Regions from separate parts of the Homo sapiens genome. Here region 1 is linked to region 2. The links come from fine-mapping of genetic effects on gene expression. A gene starts in region 2. The other region holds a variant in brackets. All regions are shown on one strand. Distances are from middle to middle.

The links. PIP is the estimated chance that this variant, and not a neighbour inherited with it, causes the effect. A credible set is the group of variants that fine-mapping cannot tell apart.
Region 1: its variant is the best candidate, but not a certain one, in a credible set for the expression of ADA2 in whole blood (TOPMed, PIP 0.61).

Annotation. Positions count from the first base shown.
Region 1 is chr22:17,179,687-17,182,416 of GRCh38, reverse strand. ADA2 (adenosine deaminase 2) reads left to right here. Exons shown (of 10, transcript NM_001282225.2): 9 at 395-597; 10 at 841-2,730. The coding sequence ends at 934. Among named protein-coding and RNA genes, the nearest start is that of HDHD5-AS1, 22 kb to the right of the region's middle. The variant T/A (reference allele first, on the strand shown) is at 1,372.
Region 2 is chr22:17,217,990-17,221,009 of GRCh38, reverse strand. It overlaps ADA2 (adenosine deaminase 2), which reads left to right and starts at 1,575. Exons shown (of 10, transcript NM_001282225.2): 1 at 1,575-1,654. RefSeq lists enhancers at 1,788-1,917, 1,928-1,997, 1,838-2,198.

The sequences.
Region 1 (2,730 bases), 38 kb after region 2:
GCAGCAGTGAGGGTCCCCAGTGGGGTGGAATTTTGGGCAAGACTGTAGACAAAGCAAAAAGGACATGGGGGGAGGCCAGTGAAGTGGGACGGACCATGGGATGCTGCTCCCCATGGTTTCTTGGGGTCCTTTGTGTCTGTGTTCAGTTAGCGCTTCTCTGAGCAGGAACAGAAGTGACCCGATGTTTGCAGTGCTGATGAAACATGAGGAGGAGCATAAGGACTGGCTCTGTTCCTTATGTCTCCTTGTGACTCTGCCCAGAAGTCATCCCCATACTGGGGAGATAGTGATGGGAAGATGAAGGGAGCTGATGGGGCTCAAGGTCTCACCTCACTTGTGACTACTCTTTTTAGGGATCAGAGTTCATCTTTCTCCCTTCCCTCCTATTGCGCAGGTGCTGAAACTGGTGTCTGACTTGAGGAACCACCCTGTAGCCACTCTGATGGCCACTGGGCACCCCATGGTGATCAGCTCTGATGACCCAGCTATGTTTGGTGCCAAAGGCTTGTCCTATGATTTCTATGAGGTCTTCATGGGCATTGGGGGGATGAAGGCTGACCTGAGGACCCTCAAACAGCTGGCCATGAACTCTATCAAGTGAGTGTCCTGTGTCCTCCCAGGTCCCCCGCCTCCTTCCAGCCCGCAGCTTGTGTTTGCCTCTCTGGAGGCTTGAGGCAGATGCCTCGATGGTTCCTGTGGGTTCCTTCTCATCATGGCTGTTTAGTCCTTGCTGCTGGCCTGGGGAGAGTGCTCTGCAAGGCTCTAATGTCCTCTCAGGCTCCCTGCCCCGTTCCCCAACCCCTGCCCTGAGGCTGACCTGGGCTCCTCCTCTTCCTGCAGGTACAGTACCCTGTTGGAGAGTGAGAAAAATACTTTCATGGAAATCTGGAAGAAGAGATGGGATAAGTTCATAGCAGATGTGGCTACAAAGTGAGGAGAAGCTAGCCAGCCCTCTACAAGCTGTCTTCTTGCACACGCTGTCACTTCCTCTCACTCGTTCTTGAATCAGCTCCATGTGCCCATGAAATCAATGGCCTCTGTATGGAGCGACCCTGTGAGAAGCACTTGGCTGGCTGAGCAAATTCATCCTCTGGAAATATTCTCTCTCAGCCACAGTGACATTGACCCTCTTGGTTTTCTCCTGTCTCTGGCCATTTCTTCCAGTTTCCCTATTTCAGAGTCTTCTCCTCTCTCTGATCTCTGTGCTGTTTCCTCAGGACTCAGTCCTGGGCTCTCTTCTATTCTGGTCTCTTTATTTTTTTATTTTTGTATTTTTTCGAGATGGAGTTTTGCTCTTGTTGCCCAGGCTGGAGTACAATGGTGCGATCTCAGCTCAGTGCAACCTCCGCCACCCGGGTTCAGGCAATTCTC[T/A]TGCATCAGCCTCGCGAGTAGTTGGAATTATAGGCATGTGCCACCACACCCAGCTGATTTTTGCATTTTTAGTAGAGACAGGTTTTCACCATGTTGGCGAGGCTGGTATCCAACTCTTGACCTCAGGTGATCCACTCGCCCCTTGGCTCCCAAAGTGCTGGAATTACAGGCATTAGCCACCATGCCTGGCCTATTCTGGTCTCTTTAACTCTCTCCTCTTTATTTCTCTTCTCTCTCTGTACACTTTTCCTGGGTGGTCTCATCCATTCCTTTGCTTTTTCATACCATTTATTTGTTAATGATTCCCACATTTATTTATGCACTTGGAGAGCTCACAGGAATCTCAGAAACTGATGAGGTACAATTCTGAACCCTCAGTCTCTTCCCTTTAAACCTTTCTTTTTCTCTACTTTAATTTTTCTAAAGAGTGTCTTGCTATGTTGCCCAGGCTGGTCTCCAACTCAAGTGATCCTCCTGCCGCAGTCTCCCGAAGTGCTGGGATTACTGACATGAGCCACCACACTCAGCCCTTTAAACCTTTCCCTGGCCTTTCCCATAGCTGGTGAAGGACACCTCCATCCATTCCACGCAGTTGCTCAAAGCAGAAATTTTCAGTGCAAGTCTTGATGCTGCGCCGTCCCCCACTCCCTACATCAGAACGCATCCCTCATCTGGACTCCAGCGGTGGCTTCTTGATGCTGCGCGGTCCCCCACTCCCTACATCAGAATGCATCCCGCATCCAGACTCCAGCGGTGGTGCTCTACCTGCACGCTGTTGCCAAGTCCAAGCTACCATACTCCTGCCTGAGCTATGACAACAGCCTCCTCACTGATCTCCCCTTTCTTCCCTTTGCCTCCTCCAGCTCATTTTTCACAGTGTAGAATGACATTTTGTTTGTTTGTTTTGTTTTGTTTGAGATGGAGTCTCGCTCTGTTGCCCAGGGTGGAGTGCAGCGGTGCGATCTCGGCTCACTGCAACCTCCACCTCCCGGGTTCAAGCGGATTCTCGTGCCTCAGCCTCCTGAGTAGCTGGGATTACAGGCATGCACCACCATGCCCGGATAATTTTTGTATTTTTAGTAGAGATGGGGTTTCACTATGTTGGCCAGGCTGGTCTCGAACACCTGACCTCGTGGTCCACCCGCCTCGGCCTCCCAAAGCACTGGGATTACAGGCGTGAGCCACCCGGCCTGGCCTAGAATGACTTTTAAAAGATCAAATTAAATCAGGTCACTCCTTTGCTTACAACGCAGTGCGTTTAGAGGTACACCCCATGTCTCCACAGGGCATACAGCATCCGATTTAATCTGGATCCATTCCGGCGCCTTCCTCTCCCAGTCACCCAGAGGGCCCCAACCC
Region 2 (3,020 bases):
CACCACACCTAATTTTTGTATTTTAGTAGGGGCTGGTCTCGAACCCCTTCCATTGTGATCCACCTGCCTCGGCCTCCCAAAGTGCTGGGATTACAGGCATGCACCACTGAGCCCAGCCTAGTCTTGAACTCTTGATGAGGGAATCCCTGACCCCTCTGTGTTTTCACTTTGGGATTTCTTCCTGTTTATTAAATGAATGACCTTGGTACTTTTTGGAGAAAATGACAAAAAGGAGCATCAAGGCTCCAGATGTATGGGAGCTGCAGAACTGAAACTGCCGTGGGCTTTTGGGGGTAGATTTGGGGTCTTGGGGGTAGATTTGAGTGGGACTGGGGAGGAGTGGGGTGCAATCGAGTCTTTAGACCATGCATGTGACATGGAGGTCCCTGGTGTAGCCTCCCATGTCTGCATTTCTAATTGGCTTGGATGAGGCATCCCAATAGTTACTTCTAAGAATAGTCATGGCTAATATTTATCAAGAGCTTTCTATGTGGCAGGTACTTTGCATGTGTTTTTCCTTTAATTCTGACAATGGACCCTCTGTGGTGGGTGCTTTTATTATCCACATTTTCAGATGAGGAAACTGAAGTATAGAGAGTTGAAACAACTTGGTCGAGGCCCCACTGCTACAGTGCTAAGGCCAGCTACAAAGCGAGGTCTGACTCTGACCGTCCTGGGTACAGGAGCCTTGTCTGCTCCACTTGTCCCTTGGAGCGTTGTTCTTGCTGGTCCTCTTCACACCCCAGCTCTTGTCTCCTACCTCCTGCCCCCTCTACTGTCCTGTCCCCGCATCCCTGATTTCCCCCCTAAAACATATATTTTATTATAGCTACTTTTTACTCTCTGTCTAATGGGTTGCCCCACAGTCCACAATCACATTTTGAGGAAGGAGAACTTCCCAGAGTTCATGAACAGATTTTGGAGTGCCTCTTTGCGGTGCTTGTTTCCAAAACCAACATGCTGTGGACCTTTCAAAGACACAGTACACACAAACACACACACACCCTCCCTCCAACACAAATAAACCCACATGCGGCCGGGCATGGTGGCTCACGCCTGTAATTCCAGCACTTTGGGAGGCCGAGGTGGGCGGATCACCTGAGGTCAGGAGTTCGAGAGCAGCCTGACCAACATGGTGAAACCCCATTTCTACTAAAAATACAAAAAATCAGTGGGGCATGGTGGCGCACGCCTGCAATCCCAGCTACTCGGGAGGCTGAGGCAGGAGAACTGCTTGAACCCGGGAGGCGGAGGCTGCAGTGAGCTGAGATTGCGCCATTGCACTCCAGCTTGGGCAACAAGAGTGAAACTCTGTCTACAAAAAAAAAAAAAAAAAAAAAAAAACAAACCCCACATGCACATAAACCGAAACACACACGAACACACAAACACCCACATGAACATGCGCACAAGCCCCCCACATCAAACTCAGATGCACACAGCAAGCATGCATGTAAGCCACACACTTGCCACTCTGGCTGCCTCAGCACTGCAGAGCCCCTCTCCCCGGCCTCTAGTTGGATCCCTGGTGCACACTGGAGGGAAATAAAACCTACCCCAACAGGAAGTGAAACAGTTGGTGAGCTTTTCCGGTGCTCTGCACAGATGCTGGGGCGCTGAGCAAACAGCCCTCAGTTTCTGGAGCTGTTCCGAGGTAACTGGGGTCCTTTGGGAGCTGTGGGATGATGAGGTTCAGGAGGTAGCTGGGAAGTCCGGAGCTTGGGCTTGATCCACCTGCACCTCTCCCTGTCTCCATCTGAGCTGGGTCTGAGACTCTCAGTGGAGGAGTAACAGGCTTTCTCCCAACAGGCTTTTGAAAATGGGCCCAAGGGCATTTACTCAGGACCACAGATGCATGTGGCCTACTCCACTGTCACCAGGCTGGAGTGTGGTGGCACGATCTCGGCTCTCTGCAACTTCTGCCTCTCGAGTTCAAGCCATTCTTGTGCCTCAGCCTCCCTAATAGCTGTGATTACAGGCACCCACCACCACGCCCGGCTAATTTTTGTATTTTTAGTAGAGACGGGGTTTCACCGTGTTGGCCAGGCTGGTCTTGAACGACTGACGTCAGGTGATCTGCCTGCCTCGGCCTTCCAAAGGGCTGGGATCACAGGCAGAGCCACCACACCCAGCCTCCTTTCTTCTTAGTCTGGAAGCAAACTACTTTATGAAGTTTTCATGCATCCTCTTTTAAAAGTAAAAGGAAAATCTTGTGGAGGAGAGAAGATGAAGTAGATATAGCAATAAATTGTGAATAAGGATTGTTTTTACTAGTATTCAACCAGGCAGGTCTTGACCACCATTAGATAAACTTCTGTCTGGCAGCCTGGAAAAGTTCACAGTTGCTGGGACACAAATGCTTTTGGGGTCCTTCTTGGAGAGGATGGAGTTGAAGATTTGGGAGCTTGATGGCCTTTGTTATGTGTCACCAGGGAGACAGGGACAAGGGGCGGGGCTGTTGATGGAGAATGTGGCATGGGGTAGGTGGGATGGTGACATAGAAGTCACCGTGCTCCTGCCCTAGAGATTTTAGTAGCAGGCAAACACCGTGGTCAAAAAAGAGAGTCAAGGACTTAATGAAGTTAAAGGGGTTCTGCTGACGTCCAGCACTCTGATTTTGGGGGTACAGCTTCTGCCATAACTGCATATTGCTGATACTAGTTCCTTCTTAAAATTTTCTTTGCTATCTGATGTACTACAGAATAACTGAGCTGGGAAGAATCTTGGATATTAAAATGATTTAATGAGTAGCAAACTTTCCATTTTTGTCATATCCTTGCACCTCTATTTACTTAATATTTTTCTTTAACTTAAAAATTTTTCAACAAAAACAATAATAGTTACGATATCATGGGTTTGATGTGCTAATACATGTTTTAAAATTACCTATCTGTCAACATAACCCCTATCCATTTGTGAGCCACCTAAGATTGTATTTATGCCACTGATGATATTCATGCTGCACTTGGAAAACCACTGATCTTGTCCAAGTTACCTTTTTTGTAGGTGAGGACACTGAG